2 separate regions of the Homo sapiens genome follow, and region 2 is linked to region 1. Evidence: fine-mapped expression QTL. A gene starts in region 1. The other region holds a variant in brackets. All regions are shown on one strand. Distances are between the middles of the regions. Region 1 holds the start of GM2A (ganglioside GM2 activator). Region 2 holds the start of SLC36A3 (solute carrier family 36 member 3).

Evidence for each region. PIP is the estimated chance that this variant, and not a neighbour inherited with it, causes the effect.
Region 2: its variant is the best candidate, but not a certain one, in a credible set for the expression of GM2A in unexposed skin (GTEx, PIP 0.62).

Annotation. Positions count from the first base shown.
Region 1 is chr5:151,248,833-151,257,169 of GRCh38, reverse strand. It overlaps GM2A (ganglioside GM2 activator), which reads right to left and starts at 3,985. Exons shown (of 4, transcript NM_000405.5): 1 at 3,873-3,985. The coding sequence starts at 3,953. It overlaps LOC124901115 (a long non-coding RNA gene), which reads left to right and starts at 5,985. Exons shown (of 3, transcript XR_007059003.1): 1 at 5,985-6,196; 2 at 6,689-6,752; 3 at 7,491-8,337. RefSeq lists an enhancer at 781-920 and a silencer at 4,025-4,374.
Region 2 is chr5:151,295,972-151,304,308 of GRCh38, reverse strand. SLC36A3 (solute carrier family 36 member 3) reads left to right here and starts at 543. Exons shown (of 10, transcript NM_181774.4): 1 at 543-1,082; 2 at 5,626-5,716; 3 at 8,041-8,129. The coding sequence starts at 955. The variant A/G (reference allele first, on the strand shown) is at 3,587.

The DNA.
Region 1 (8,337 bases):
TAGTGGGAAGGGGTGGTACAAGACGGAGGGGAAAGGCACAGCTCTGGAGGCAGAGATATGGGTACTACAGGTATGAGTTAAAACCCAGCTCAGCCAGTCTTACTAGCTAAGACCATGGGTAAGTTAACCCCCTAGGGGTTCAAAATTTCCTCATTTATTATGTGGACATAATGATATCTTCTCACAGGGCTATTGTGAGGGTAAGATGTTTGTATACAGAAAGCACAGGGCACAACTCCTCAAGACTGCCAAGCTCATGAATAAACAAGGAAAGACTAAGAAGCTGTCATAGGCTGGAGGAGAGGGGGGACTACAATTATATGTGTCATGACAACAATGGCAGTGCAGTACCCTGGATTGGATCCTGGCTCAGAAAGAGGGCATTAATGGGAAAACTGGTGAAATCCAAATAAAGTCTAGAATTCAGTTAACAGTAATGTACTAATGTTGGTTTCTTAGTGTTGGAGATATGTACATATAAGATGCTAACAGGGAAAACTGAGTCAGGAGTATATAGAAACTCTATATTATCTCTGTAACTTTTCTTTTTTTTTTTTTTTTCTTGAGACAGAGTCTCACTCTGTCATCCAGGCTGGAGTGCAGCAGCGTGATCTCAGCTCACTGCAACCTCTGCCTCCTAGGTTCAAGTGATTTCTCCTGCCTCAGCCTCCCAAGTAGCTGGGACTACAGGTGTACGCCACCATGCCTGGCTAATTTTTGTATTTTTAGTATGGACAGGGTTTCACCATGTTGGCCAGGTTCAGGTTGGTCTCAAACTCCTGGCCTCAAGTGATTTGCCTGCCTTGGTCTCCCACAGTGCTGGATTATAGGGGTGAACCACCACGCCCTGCTGCAACTATTCTATAAACCTAAAATTATTCCAAATTTTTTTTTAGGAAAAAAGCACATAGCCCAGTACATAGCACATAGTATGGGTACAACAAATGACAGCCACTATACAGCACTATAGAGTCTATTAAGCACCTACTATATGACTAGCATGGGGCTAGATATCCTCCCCTGTTATCTAACACCCATCACAGCCTGTAGTCACAAGATCAGTTATGCTAGAAGAGGAACTGAAATTCAGGTTTCCTGATGTTCATTCACTGTCACCCCCCACCCCCATCTTTATCTGGCCCAGGGACTCAAGGTCAGGGCTCTGAATCACATGAGCCCCAAGAAGATGTAGGTGCTGTGTGATTTTGAGTGACCTTTATAATGTCTCAGGGCCTCTTCAAAACTGCCAATCTAAGACCTAGTCTGAGATGGCATCCATACCCACAGCATATACAACAAGTTTGTAGGGTGAGCTAGCAGCCTCTAGCCAGACTCCACCTCATAGCGGCCAGCCCTGGAGCCAAGAGAAGCATTCTCAGCCAACATTCAGGAACAAGGTATAAATTCTCCAGGCAAATGAAGTCAAAAGGTCCACGTTCCTTCATTCAACAAGCAAAACAGACTTTCTGCCTCGGGGGCAGAGTGAGGCCAAGCCCACAGATTTATATGGCTTTATTTGTTTCTGATTTTAGAAATTTTCCATCAATGAATGCATTTCCCTTCACCGACAACTCCCCGAGATGCACGTTGGCACCATCACACCCATCTTACAGATGAGGAGAACAAGACTCAGGAAATCCATGGATTGAGACAGGGGAATGATCAGAAGCCAAGCCTCCCTGCTTTCAGTATCACCCGCTTTCCCCTACACAGCACTGTTCCTCACTCTCAAACACTTCCAAGATGGTAGAAGGGAGGGGATCAGGGTTGGACCTATCCCTTTGCTACCAGAAATGTGTGATGTCTTGACCACAGCTAGCAGCCAAGAGGCAATGGAATCGGGTTTTTGTTTTTGGGGTTTTTTTGTGAGATAGGGTCTCACTCTGTCACCCAGGCTGGAATGCAGTGGTGCAATCTCAGCTGTAGCCATGACCTCCCAGGTTCAGGCGTAGCTGGGCCTCTCACCTTAGCCTCTCAAGTAGCTGGGAATACTGGCGCACACCACCACGCCCAGCTAATTTTTGTATTTTTGCAGAGATGGGGCTTCACCATGTTGCCCAGGCTGGTCTTGAACTCCTGAGCTCAAGCAATCTGTCCACCTCAGCCTCCCAAAGTCCTGGGATTACAGGTGTGCACCACCGCACCTGGTCTTGGGTTTTTTTTAAATTGACAAACCATAGTTGTATACATTTATGGGGTACACTGCAATGTGAAATGTATTCTCTTAGTTGTTTTGAAATGCACACAGTTCCTGACTTACAATGGTTTGACATACCATTTTTCAACTTTACAATCGTGCCTAAGTGATAAATATTCAGTAGAAACTGTACTTTTAGTATCCATACTGTTTTTCACTTTCAGTACAGTCTTCAGTAAATCACATGAGACATTCAACACTTTATTATGAAATAGGCTTTGTGTTAGATGATATTGCCCAACTGTAGGCTAATGTAAATGTTCTGGGCATGTTTAAGGTAGGCTAGGCATGTTTAAGGTAGGCTAGGCTATGATTCTCAGGTTAGCTGTATTAAATGCATTTTCAACTTATGATGGGTTTATCAGAACATAACCTCATGGAAAGTTAAGGAGCTTCTGTATATAATACATTACTGACGATAGTCACCCTGGTGTGCAATAAATCTCAAAGCCTATTCCTTAGCAGAACTTGGTGGCCCACACCTGCAGTCCCAGCTACTCAGGAGACTGAGGTGGGAGGACTGCTTGAGCCCAGGAGTTTAAGGCTGCAGTGAGCTACAATCGCCCCACTGCACTCCAGCCTGGGTGACAGAGTGAGACCCCACCTCTACTCTCAACTTCTGTAAGTTCAACTTGGTTAGAATCCGCATATAAATGAGATAATAAAACAGAACTACCATATGAGCCATTATCCCACTTCTGGGTATATATCCAAAGGAACTGAAATCAACATTTCGAAGGGCTATCTGCACTCCCATATTCATTGCAGCATTACTCACAATAGCTAAGATATGGAAATAACCTAAGTGTCCATCAACAGACACTTGATGGATAAAGAAATTATCCATCAACAGACACTTGATGAAGAAATTATCCATCAAATTGAATGCATAAAGAAAATGTGGCATATATACACAACAGAATACTATTCAGCCTTTAAAAGGGGGAACATCTTGTCATTTGCAACAACATAGATTGAATCTGAAAGACATTGGGCTAGCTGCAATAAGCCAGGAACGAGGCTTTTTCAGGTGAAGGGATTACAGAACTTCCCTTTCCCAGGGATCTGCAGCACGGTGTGAATGAGAAGTGAAGGAAGAAGCGGTGTCAATGAGAAGTGAAGGAGGAAGCTTGGAGGGTACGGGGACTGTTGTCTCAGTGGCTCATAACCAAGGGCAGCGGGGTCACAGGCCTGGGTATTTGTCACCAGATGGGCAAATCTGGATCCTCTGGCCTGGAAAAGCTCTCAAACCCTCCCAACTCTCAGGAAGACCTCAGGGCATTCGAGCAGGGGAAGAGATGAGGCAGCAGGCCTTATCATGGGGGACATAAGGAGTGGGGGTCAGGAGTAAGGTGCAGGGTTAACAGGACTGAATCTCTGGGGGCAATGCCTTAGTTTTAAGGCTGTCTGCATTTTCACTCCGGCGCTTGGAGGGAGGGCAGGAGAGTGCAGACGTGAGATTAATCTCTCCAAAAAGGGCCTGGAGCAGAACAAGTCTTTAGAGGCCACCCTCATTGTACAGACCAGAATCCCATAATTAGTTACTTTGGAAGGCTCTAGTGCAGAGAACCAATTCTAGAGAACGGAGTGGCCACCCCCATATCTCAGCCAGACCCGCACACCCGTAGCTGGGCCAGGAGGCTGCAAACAGACTCTTAAAAGAGGGTGCACTCACCTTTTTCAGGTGGGCTTGCGCAGGGGCCGCGAGAAGCAAGCCCAGGGCGATCAGGAGGGGAGCCTGCATCAGGGACTGCATCGGGAAGGGTGGGTCAGGGCGGAGTTAACTGCAAGGTCTGTGGCGGCAGAGGTGCCTTTAAATGCCTTCCAGTATTGGTTACGCAAAGAAGCTGAGTCCAGTCACTGGCAGGTTCGCCCTGCCCCGTCCCGGCCAGAGACTTCCCGGCCGAGAATTGGACCGATTCCTCCCGGCTCCGCCCCCTCGCTCTTTTCATTGGAGCCTGTCTCTCTAGCGTAGGTGTCAAGGCCTTCCCTCTCTGGGGCGTAGGCGGAGTTGGAAGAGAAAGGGGCGGAACTGAGCGCGGCGGGGCTGAAGGCGGCTGGAACGGAAGGGAGCTTAGCACGAGGTTGGGGCGGGATCACGAGGGCGGGGCGGAGCTGCGCGCGCGGGAGGGGCGGGGGCGTGGCGCGAGGAGGGGCCGAGCGGAGTCGGGGGCGGGGCGGAGCAGAGCTCCTGGGAAGGGCGGGGCCGGGCAGGGGATGGGGCGGAGCTGTGGTTTGTGAACTCGTGCCGGGGCCGTCACCTTTGGAAGGACCTTTGGGAAACCGCGGATTCAGTGTTTTCATCCCCAAGTCCTTCCGGACAAAAATGTCAGACTCTCTGCCATGTTACGCTTCCCCATATGTGTGTCTTTTTTTTTTTTTTTTTTGCTTTGAGACGGACTCTCGCTCTGTCGCCCGAGCTGGAGTGCAGTGGCGCGATCTCGGCTCACTGCAACCTCTGCCTCCCAGGTTCAAGCGATTCTTCCGCCTCAGCCTCTCGACTAGCTGGGACTACAGGCACGCGCCACACGCCCAGCTAATTTTTGTGTTTTTAGTAGAAACGGGGTTTCACCGTGTTGTCCAGGACGGTCTTGATCTCTTGACTTCACGAATCCGTATCTTTTTAATAATTATAACCGTTATAAAAACTAACATTTAGTAACTGCTTGAAAGCATGCTAAGGACGCACAAGGGAATGCTTTTTTTTTTTCTTCCCCAATTTTAGCACTGAGGAAACTGATACACAGTGAGGTTAGCTCTGCCAAGGTCGCACAGCTAGGAAGGAATAGAGCAAGACTTCTTTTTAGACACCCCATCAGCCAAGATTTTGTCAGGTTAATATACTAGTTGGAGATTTGCTTTTAGAAAAAACAGGGATGTTGTTACCAATACCGCCAATTTACCACAGGATTGTAAACTACACAAGGGGTGGCATCATGATGCAGGCACTCATTTATACCCAGTGCCTGATGCATAATAGACAATCTGTTGAGTACATGAATGCATGTGTAGAATTTAAAACTCACCTGATCATCTTTTTTAAAGTAAACTTTTTATTTTGGTTTACAGAAAAGTTGCAAAAATACTACAAAGTTCTGTTCGTTTCCTCTATTGTTGATAAGACACCCGTGGCCTGGCCGGGGGTTCAGACTGCAGACCCAGAGCTTGTGCTTGTGCATAACTGGGGGGCACTGCCAGCGACAAGGAGGTGGCAAAAGAATAAAAAATTAAAAAATTTTTTTTAAATCTGAGGGCATGACATTGGTACACTATTATTAACTAAGCTCCATACTTTACATAATGATCCTCCCATTCTGATCAACTCTTCCCTTTCACCTAGCCCAACTGAGGTAGGAGAATAGAGTCTGCAGGCAGGGAACCTAAGGCCATTTCACGCTGACTTCCTAGAACTAAATCGAAAGGAAAACCCTAACTTTCCACACCTAAGTAACAAGAGGACCAGAGGCTACTCTCTTTACAACCCCCCACCTTTTCTGTGCAGCAGATGGGAAATTGAAAGTACATTTCGATTTCTATGCTACATTTCAGTTTATATGTTAAAATTGCATAGAAGTGCAACTTTGTAACTTCACTTCAGCCTGATTGGTTGCTTTCCACAACCAATCAGATGTTTGCACAGGAGCATGACCTTTGTAACTTCACTTCGGCCTCTGATTAACCAGTCAGACTGATTGCGGGCCACCACTTCATTTACATGAGGTGAGCACCAAGTGGCCAATGGGAAACCTCTAGGGGGTATTTGGACCCAAGAAGATTCTGTATCTGGGCCCTTGAGCTGCTGCTTGGCCCGCTCCCACACTGTTGAGTGTACTTTCATTTTTAATAAACCCTTGCTTTTGTTCTTTCATTGCTCCATTTTTCCCTTGCTTTTCTGTGTGTTTTCTCCAATTCTTTGTTCAAAAACGCCAAGAACCTAGACAACTTTCAGTCAAAACCCTCTACTGGTAACATATTTTGGCAAGCCAGCCAGGAGAGAAGGTAGGCCCAAAGCTTGGGATTTATTTTTCTCCATTTCCCTTTTAATGCAGGGGAATTTTTCTCTCCCTCTCTCTTTTCCTTTCCAACTCGGAACCCAACTCGGTGGACAGCGCCTAAGCACAGAGGAAATTGTAAGTTTCTGGCCAGGGCCACTCTCTGGTGAGACTGAAAGGCTTCCGTGTCGAAGCACTTGACCGCCACTGCCTGGTCACTGAGAAGTCTTTTTCCTTGTTTTCATTTTTCTGAGTCCTATTCCTTTTCTTTTTTTCTCTCTTTTTTCTGAGTTCTATTCCTTTTTGTTTTTTGTTGTTTTTTGTTTGTTTGTTTTTTGCTTTTTCAGTCTTTCACTGGTCGTTTCCTAGTAGCTCCTTGGTAATTGAGGGAAACTGGCCGGGGCCACTCTCCAGTGTTCTCTGAAGGCCAAAGAGTGAACAGGGACGGCTGCCCTGCCCAGAAGGGTGAAAGACTCTTTTCTGTCCTTTCTGATTATAGATCCCTACCTGTGTCTGGGTTGGCAGCAGCAGCAGCTCATCCAGGGCAAACTCACACGTTTCAGGTGACTTAAACCTTATGCTAAATTCTTCCCTTCCCTTCCCCCACTTGACTGGCTAAGGACAGAAAACCCACCTAGCTATGCAAAAAGGTTATATGAGTCAGAGGGTCCAGGCATGTCGTAGGTGGTCTGTGTGATGCATGGGGAGTGGGGGGAATTCATGAAAGGTAATCTATTATTGCCTAAATTGAGAGAGTTAAAGGGTTGCTTTGCCGGCTGCGGTGGCTCACGCCTGTAATCCCAGCACTTTGGGAGGCCGAGGCAGGCGGATCACGAGGTCAGGAGATTGAGACCATCCTGGCTAACACGGTGAAACGCCATCTCTACTAAATATACAAAAAATTAGCCAGGCATGGTGGTCGGCGCCTGTAGTCCCAGCTACTCGGAGGCTGAGGCAGGAGAATGGCATGAACCTGGGAGGCAGAGCTTGCAGCGAGCCGAGATCATGCCACTGCACTCCAGCCTGGGCAACAGAGCAAGACCCTGTCTCAAAAAAAAAAAAAAGTTGCTTTAAGTGGCATGGGAAAACCTTAAGGAAAGTTCACAGTAGGTCTTCAGTGGTGGAGGGAACCATTCCAAAGCAATGCCTGCACCTATCTAAGGTCAGAGACATCTAACAGGCTAAGTCAGGGCCCTAATGGGGAGATGCTCCCAGGGACCCCAGTCTGGGCCCAGAATTTTTCCAGGAGGATGCCTCAGGTAAAATTTGGGTCACCTGGTCAGTCCTCTTCTCTTTTCCAGACCACTGTGGGCAACTCTCTACCTATTCCACCTGATTCCCCGCTCGGCTACGTCCTCCACCATTGCGATCAATTTGACCCTGACAATCTAAAGAGAAAACATATAATTTTTTTCTGCAGTACTGTCTGGCTCCATTATGAGCTGCCCAGCCTGGAAAAAATGGGTAGTCAATGGTAGCCTTAATTATGACATCATCCTGCAATTAGACCTATTTTGCAAGAGACAGAGCACATGGTCAGAAATCTTGTACATGCAGACTTCCATGACGCTTTACCAAAACCTAACAATCTGTGAAACTCCCAGAACCCACCCCACAAAGGAAAGTTCTAAGGGAGAACTACATATTATAGATGACCCCCTCTTACAAGGGCCACCTGTCTCTCAGAGTGAACAGTGACCACCCCCATATAGCCCCTTGCAAGTGCTCCTGAGGCTCAACCCCAGGAGCAAACACCAGAGACCCTACTAAGTCCCCCTCACATTCGGAGGGGAACCCTGTATTCAGCTCTTCTTCCAGCCCTGCTACACCTTAGGGAAGTAGCAGGAGTTGAGGGGCCAGTCCTAGTGCAGGCCCCCTTCTCTATAACTAATATTCAACAATGTAAGGAAAAGCTAGGAAGCTGTTCTGAGAATCCTAGGAAATTTGCAGATGAGTTCCACACTTTGACCTTAGCCTTTGATCTCTCATGGAGAGATGGTCAATTCATTCTAGCAACCTGTTGGCACTCCCTCAGGAAAGGAACAAATCTTTGAGGCTGCCAGCAGGGAAGTGGATGAATTATCCACCTGAAACCCTCAGGGCAATTACCGAGGCCCAGACACAGTTCCCACTACTGATCCTAATTGA
Region 2 (8,337 bases), 47 kb before region 1:
ATGTCACTTTCTAGGTGAGGCCCTCTCTGATCACCCAATCTAAAATTGCGACCCTCCCCCTAGCTGAAACTCTCCATTACCCTTGCCTGGATTTTCTCTATACCGCTTTTTACTAACAGATACTTGATATATTTGTTTCGTTTATTGTCTGTCTCCCCCAGCCCCTCCAGATTGTAAATTCCATGAGAACAGAGATTGTAGTAAGTTTTCTACCCTAATATATTCCCAGCATGGAGAACAGTTTCTAGCATATATTAGATGCTCAATAAATATTTTCTGAACAAATGATTTTTTTTAAACATGACCTGCACTCCCTTCCAAATCACTGGCAGGCCATACGCCTCCTGTATAGAAATTCTGAGCAGGTGGCATTTGAACTGGGCCTTACAAGCCACTCTTCACCCCAAACAGGGAACATGGTAGCTGGATTATGTTCTGTTGGGCCACATCTGCATCCCAGGATTCTGCTGCAGCTCATTGGCTGGGCAGCCTCCATTGTGAGGTAGCTCTGGTTTTTTCCTTGCCAAAGACAGACAAGCACTGAGCCTGGCCCCACGTCCAGGCACCAGGACCTCCAATCCAATGGTGTCTTCTTCCTCCCAGTCACACTGTTCACTTTGCCCTACAGCAGCAAGGGCTAAACTAGGAGAGGCCAAAAGCCCAGGCAAGTCCTGGTTGGGCAAGCAATTGCGAGTGAAACTGAGGACCATCCTGACTGAGATGGGTCTTTCATAAGTCCCCCAAGAGCCAGGTGAGGCATCATCAACATCAGCCTCTCCTGCCACCACCGCTTCCCTGATTCATGCACTTCAGGCTTCAGCCAGCAGCACGCATCCTTGGGGTTAGGAGCCAGCATCTCAGGTCAGCAGCCATGGTTTCTCTGGAGAAAGACCCATCAGAGGCTCATTCAGAGCCTTAACCCTGAGCCTCTGCCACCTACCCACCGTGTTGAAGATGTCATTGCTTGGAAGGGACTACAACAGTGAGCTGAACTCCTTGGACAACGGACCTCAGTCACCCTCAGAGAGCAGCAGTAGCATTACTTCAGAGAATGTCCATCCTGCTGGAGAAGCTGGACTATCGTAAGTGGCCGCACCGCCCTTCCAGGCCTGAGGTCAAGCACTGCTGTTTTTGCAACTCTGGACTATGTCTTCCTTCATCTATCTCCTTAACACGCTTATTCCATTAACACGATATGCGTGGATAAAAGATGAAACCTTCAGAATCTAAGGAGGTCAATCCCTGTGGCTCTGGCTACTAGCCCTGTTTCCCAGTTTTTACGAAGAACCCAGCTAGAGCAGCCACCCTCAACATGAGCAGCTTGTCTCCAGGAACAGTTTCCTATCTCAGGCTGTCTGCCCTTTCCTTCCTCCCTTTCTTTCTTCCACAGTCTCTGGCTGCCTTCTTCTCCTCACACATCTGCCATTATTCTCTCTGCCTCTTCTCCCCAACCCCCCATGCCATCCATCCAGAAAACAAAAGGTGCTAACCCCATGTCTCCACCTTTACTGCCCCAAACTCAGACACATGGAACTCTTCTCTCTTTTTTTTTAATTAAATTAAATTTAATTTAATTTTAAGTTCCAGGATACATGTACAGGACATGCGGGTTTGTTACATAGGTAAACGTGTGTCATAGTGGTTTTGCTGTACCTATCAACCCATCACCTAGGTATTAAGCCCCATATACCTTAGCTATTTATCCTGATGCTCTCCCATCCCCTGCCCCCCACCCCCAACCAGCCCCAGTGTTTGTCTTGTTCTCCTCCCTGTGTCCATGTGTTCTCATTGTTCAGCTCCCACTTACAAGTGAGAACATGCAGTGTTTGGTTTTCTGTTCCTTTGTTAGTTTGCGGAGTATACTGGCTTCCGGCTCCATCCATGTCCCTGCAAAGGACATGATTTCAACAGAACTCTTCTTCTAGGACTTACTGTCAATCACACTGCTATCTGGTAATCATCAGATCGGTAACAACTGTGGGCACAAAGAGATTATCGATGACAATCCCCAGTGTTGATAAGGATATCAGGAAATGCCCTCTCTCATCTTTTGGGAAGAATTAAATTGGTATCTTTCTAGATGGCAATGTTACAGGTCAAATCGTAAAATGTCATTTGTATAAAACATACAAATATTTATTTGGCAAATGCTGTCTGAAAGTATACAACTCGTGCACACACACAAAACTGACAGCAGTGGTTGCCTCTGGGGAAGAGAATTTGGAGGCTGAGAGAAAAGAGATTTATATTTGTTTCATAAGGATTTGGATTATTGCGTTTTATCTTTTGAATTTTGTACTGTAAGTATTACAATCTAGTTCTTTAAAGTATAATGAAATATAAATAAATATACCCTTTGATTAATAATACCCCTCTAGGAATTTTTTCTGATGAAATAATAGCACAAGAGTGCATAATTTTTATCAAAGCACTTGTTATAATGTAACCACTCAATGGGTTCACCTTGCCCACTGCCTAGACAGAGACGATTTATCAAGACAGGGGAATTGCAATGGAGAAAGAGTAATTCATGCAGAATCTGCTGTGCAAGAGACTGGAGGTTTTTTTTTTTTTTTTTTAGACGGAGTCTTGCTCTATCGCCCAGGCTGGAGTGCAGTGGCGCGATCTCAGCTCACTGCAAGCTCGAGACCGGAGTTTTATTATCACTCAAATCGGTCTCCCTGAGCATTCGGGAATTAGAGTTTTTAAAGATAATTTGGTGGGTAGGAGCTTGGGAAGTGGGGAGTGCTGATTGATCAGGTTGGAGATGGAATCACAGGGGCTCGAAGTGAGTTTTTCTTGCTGTTTTCTGTTCTTGGGAGGGATGGCAGAACTGGTTGAGCCAGATGACCGGTCTGGGTGGTTTCAGATGGTCCATCAGAGTGCAGGGTCTGCAAAATAACTCAAGCACTGATCTTAGGTTTTACAATGTGATGTTATCCCCAGGAACAATGTGGGGAGGTTTAGACTCCTGGAGCCAGAGGCTGCATGACCCCTAAACTGTAATTTCCAATCTTATAGCTAATTTGTTAGTCCTGCAAAGGCAGAATGGTCCCCAGGCAAAAAGGGGGTCTTTTTGGGAAAGGGGTGATACCAATAGTCAAACCATGAAATGAATTCCTTCCCAAAGTTAGCTCAGCCTATGTCCAGGAATAAACAAGGACATCTTAAAGGTTAGAAGCAAGATGGAGTTGGTTAGGTCTGATTTCTTTCGCTGTCTTAATTTCCTCAGTTATAATTTTGCAAAGGCAGTTTCAATAATATTGAAAACTTGGAAACATTAAGAGAAAGGTTAACACATGAAACAAACATACAGTAGAATATGATACAGTCATTACAAGTGATGGAGGAAATGTATGGACATGGAAAGTGTGTAGCACATTTATTCATACAGAAAATTAGTTGAGGATCCAGCATGCATAGCGGTTCTCTTTATGTAAAATTCGGTGCATTTAGAGCAAATAAAGATGCCCAGAGGAGGGCTAATTATAATGTGTGGTTATTTTCCATTGGTGGGATTTTGGAATTTCCTTTTATAATAGCAATTGTATAGTTTTCGAGAAAAAATATAAACCCAATTTTTTAA[A/G]TCTCAGGGGAGCTTGCAACATCTATTTATGCTTCAAGGTCCAGATGGGTAAATGCTGTCAGCTAAGGCACAGTGGTTCCTCCGAAAACTTGTCTCACCTTTCCCACAATATCTGATTCAAATAGGGGCAAGACATCGATGCTGTCATGGGAAAGAAGTGAGAGACAAAGGAAAAAAGAGCAGAGGGTGGGAAATGGGACCACATCTTTTGGAGAAATTACTACTTAAGAATTGACAAATTACAGTTATCAAGAAATAAAGGTTATCTCTTGGAAGTAAAGGGACAATGGGTGCCCACCCCCCCATCCTTAGGTGAATAGACTGCCCTAACAGAAGTTAGGTCAATAGACTTCACTCAATAGACTGAAGTCACAGAAGTCCCCAACAGTTCATCTGTTCTCTCAACCCAACCCTCTCTCAGGTCAGCATTGAAATGCAAAGACCTGGTTGGTTACAGCTTCTTCCTAGCCCCTTGCCATGACTCTCTAATGGATAAGACAAAGAGATGTGAGCACTGTCTCTGCTGGACTCACTTGGGCAGTTGGTTTTGGCTCTCCTGGCCACCTGCAGACAATTTAAGTGTGGCAAGAGGGCATTCTCTGTCTTAGCCTGAGACTTCGTCTGTATCTCCCAATGGCATCTTCAAGGTACCCTTTTGTTCTTGGGTGGAGGGGGCACTTCTACTTGCTTAAACCAGCCCATGCTTGCCTTTTTCCTATCATCCCAATTCTTCTTCCTCTTGAAGGATGCGCTTTCTAACAAATGAGCACCATGAAGGCCAAACCAAAGGTGGCAGTGAGGATGATGATGATGATGAGACAATGATATGACGATGATGATGCTCACATCTGTGAAGCACTTCATGATTCCATGATTCATCATGTTGTTACCTCTTTTGAGTCTTACAGCTTCCCTGGGACATAGGCAAAACTAGAATTTTCTCCCTTTTTTGGCAGTGAAACAGGATCAAAGCAGCTAATGGCTTCCCAAAGTAGTAACCAAACACAGTAGGTTAGCGGCAGAGCTGGAACTCAGAATTAAGTGCTCCCATCTCTGGGTTCAATGCTTACGCATGTACTTTTTATTTAAGTTCCTTTTTGATTCTGTTCTCATGATCCTGTTCCCACCTTTCCCACCCAATCCACATCAGGATTGGAGCTGCCTGGGCAGGAGCTGCCAGCACAGGTGTGAAGAATATTTAGAACCCTAGGCCCTAGCACCCTGCTGGGACCATCATAAGTACTCTATATGCACAGTAACAATTGCTATTAAATTATTAAATTTTACCCAGTGCATAATGTCGATATATAGCAATTCATATATATATAATATATATATATATATATATATCACCATGCTCATCTGACTCTACTTTGCCACAATTCTCCCCACAGTCCTCCCCACTCCCTAGCATCACATGCAGCTCATTTCATATATATATATATATATATATATATAGAGAGAGAGAGAGAGAGAGAGAGAGAGAGAGAGAGAGAGCGCACAAGCAATTCATATTCACAATGAATATTGGTTGAACAAATGGATGAAGGAGTAAACTAAAACCAGTAAATATCCCATATATGGTAGATTTTTGTTTCTAGTGAGTGAGTTAATAAATAACCTGATGTCTCACTGTAGACTGAGGCAACTATTACTAATTTTTCCATTGTCTATCTAACTGATAGACATGTATTAGGTCACAATAAATGTTATTTGAGAGAATAACTCATGAAAGAAATCACTGGATGAATTAATGAACCAACCAGTACTAGAGTGTTATCCAGAATGGTAGCAATTTTTATTTCCTTTAGAGCCTAGTGTGTATTAAAGATTTGTTGAGTCACTTGAACTAGCACCATCCCCAGATCAGATGTTCCAGGACAGACCCCTAGAACTGAGAGTTGTCTCCAAGTCCACCTCATCAGGTTTTGCCCCTCTTCCTATCAGGCGCTCTGGAGATGCCAGAAGGAGGCTGAGTTTCTGGCCATGCTTCCCTTCCACTAACAGTACCCTCTGTCTCCCTACTCTCCCCACCACAGGATGATGCAAACTTTGATCCACTTGTTGAAATGCAACATTGGCACAGGGCTCCTGGGGCTTCCCCTGGCCATAAAGAATGCCGGCTTGTTGGTAAGAGGCATCTGTGGGATGGGAACTAGGTTTGCTCATTTGCAGAAGGGGGTGATAGGTCCTGAAGGCCTTCACACTGTTATCAATGGGCAATTTGGGGGTACCCTCTGCAATTGAAAATGTGCCTGTTGGCATCAATCCCCTGGAGTCAACCTGGGTCCAACCTGAGCATCCCTGAAGGGGGCACACCATTACTCTTAAAGACTCACCATGCTCATCTGACTCTACTTTGCCACAATTCTCCCCGCAGTCCTCCCCACTCCTAGGATCACATGCAGCTCATTTCGTCATTTGCATTAACAGCCCAATCCCTGCAGGCATTTGAGTGTGTGACTCCTGTTCCAAACCACTTGAGGGCGCATGAGAAAGTGTCTTGGACATGAAGATAGACGCCTCCATCAATCCCACCAATCCACTCTCCCCACACCAGCCTACCTCTTTCTCTTTTCCTGTGCTGTTCCTGCCCCCTCATTTCTGTCTTTTTAAAGTGCCTCCTCTCTAAAACTTTACACTTTCTTATGATCACTAATGCCATCCTCACTTTGTATTTTTCTACCATTTATATCTACCTTACCTGGGATTCTTAAAGCACTTACGAAGATAAGATATTTATTTATTTATTATTATTTATTGAGACAGAGTCTCGCTCTGTCGCCCAGGCTGGAGTGCAGTGGCACAATCTTGGCTCACTGCAACCTCCGCCTCCCGGGTTCAAGCGATTCTCCTGCCTCAGCCTCCCGAGTTGCTGGGATTACAGGTGTGAGCCACCACGCCCAGCTAATTTTTGTATTCTTTGTAGAGAGGTTTTCATCATGTTGGCCAGGCAGGTCTCAAACTCCTGACCTCAGGTGACTGGCCCATCTCGGCCTCGCAAGGTGCTGGGATGACAGGTGTGAGCCACCTCGTCCGGTCGACATATTTATTTTCTAACAGACCCACCTTCCTCATTTAATTGAAAGCTCTGTGGGCAAGAACTGTCTGATTTCCCTTTGCACGTCCCCACGGTAGCCTCTGTAGGGACTGGCACACAGCAAGTTTCCATTAACATCTACTGAATGGAATAGATACCAAATATATAATTCCATTTCCTTGGAGTGAATCTTTTCTTATCTCCAGGCCTGGTAAGTGGCTTCTATGTCTAAAGAAGGCGAGACCCTTGCTGCCTCTGTCATGACTTCTGATCTTCAGTGGTTCCAACCCAGAGACTGGACTCTCCCCTTTGGAATCCTCTGGGTTCTAGAGCTTCTACAAAAAAACATGGTCTTCAGCCAAACTATCTTTGCCAGGGTGGTATTTGTTTTTAAGACAATGCTTTTATTCTTTGATATTTGCTTCCTCAGAGTCATTAGATGATTTCTTTACCTTTCATCTCCCACCAGAACCTCTGGCCATGATTCATTTGAGAAATATTTATTGAGCACCTATCTACCCTGTGCATTTGTAGCCCCTGGGAATATAGAAGCAAACAAGACACGAGAGTCTCTGCTGCATGAAGCCTGCATTCCAGTGGAGTCTAGTGGTGCTCTTGATCCCTCATTTATGTCTTTGTGATAGGTCACATCTATAAAGACACAAGTGTTCAGAACAAAGGATGTGAGAGGGTCCCCGTTTATACCCTTCTGATCACCTCTGGAAGATATAATTAGTAATCAGCCCCACTTTTTAAAAGGAATTTGACAAATTAGACACACTACAGTAGTGATCCCCAACTTGGGATCATTTTGCACCAGCTCCTGCTACCCTAGCCAAAGACCTTTACAATCTCTACAGACATTTTTGGTTGCCACAATCTGGGGGAAGAGTCTCTGACACCTAGTGGGTAGAGGCTCGGGAAAGCTGCTAAACATCCTATAATGCAAAAGACAGCTCCTGATAACAAATAATTATCTGCCCCAAAATGTCAATAGGGCACCTGTTGATAAACTCTGTACTAGAGGAAGAGAACTGAGTCATAAGAACACCTTGGCCCTCAATCATCTTGGAGGAAGTGAGGGCCAGGGTGTGTCAGACAAAATAAATTTACCACAAGGGACTCTAAACTGGTAGAACTCAAGGAAAATGAGAAAATGCATGGGCTATGTGGGAAGGTAATGAGCTCTCTGTCACTGGAAGTATCCTAGCAGAAGTTGGGCAGCCACTCTACAGGGATGCTAAGAAGAGCATTCAAATTCTAGCATCTGGGAGCATGAGGACATTCAGGCTGGGTCTGTCACCCCAAAGACAGTTTTATTATGCAACAGGCCCCAGCACGCAGACTGTGAGAGGGCCAGGGAATGGGAGTGATCATTTCTGGCTCACTTCCCCCTTTCTCCTCTCCCCTCCAGGTCGGTCCTGTCAGCCTTCTGGCCATCGGGGTCCTCACCGTGCACTGCATGGTCATCCTGTTGAACTGTGCTCAACACCTCAGCCAGAGGTCAGAGGCCTGCTTCTCTCTCATTCCAGCACTGGGGCCCCTCTGAGGGTGTGTTGCTCTTCTTTTGACCACTGACCCAATTAATTCGGCCACTGCTCCAGGCCACCTTCCTACCAATCTGGATTCTATGAAGGCAAGGAGAGCATGACAGAGAGTCCCAGTTAGAGACTCTAGGCACAGATCCAACGCTGCTGCTAACAAGCTGGAT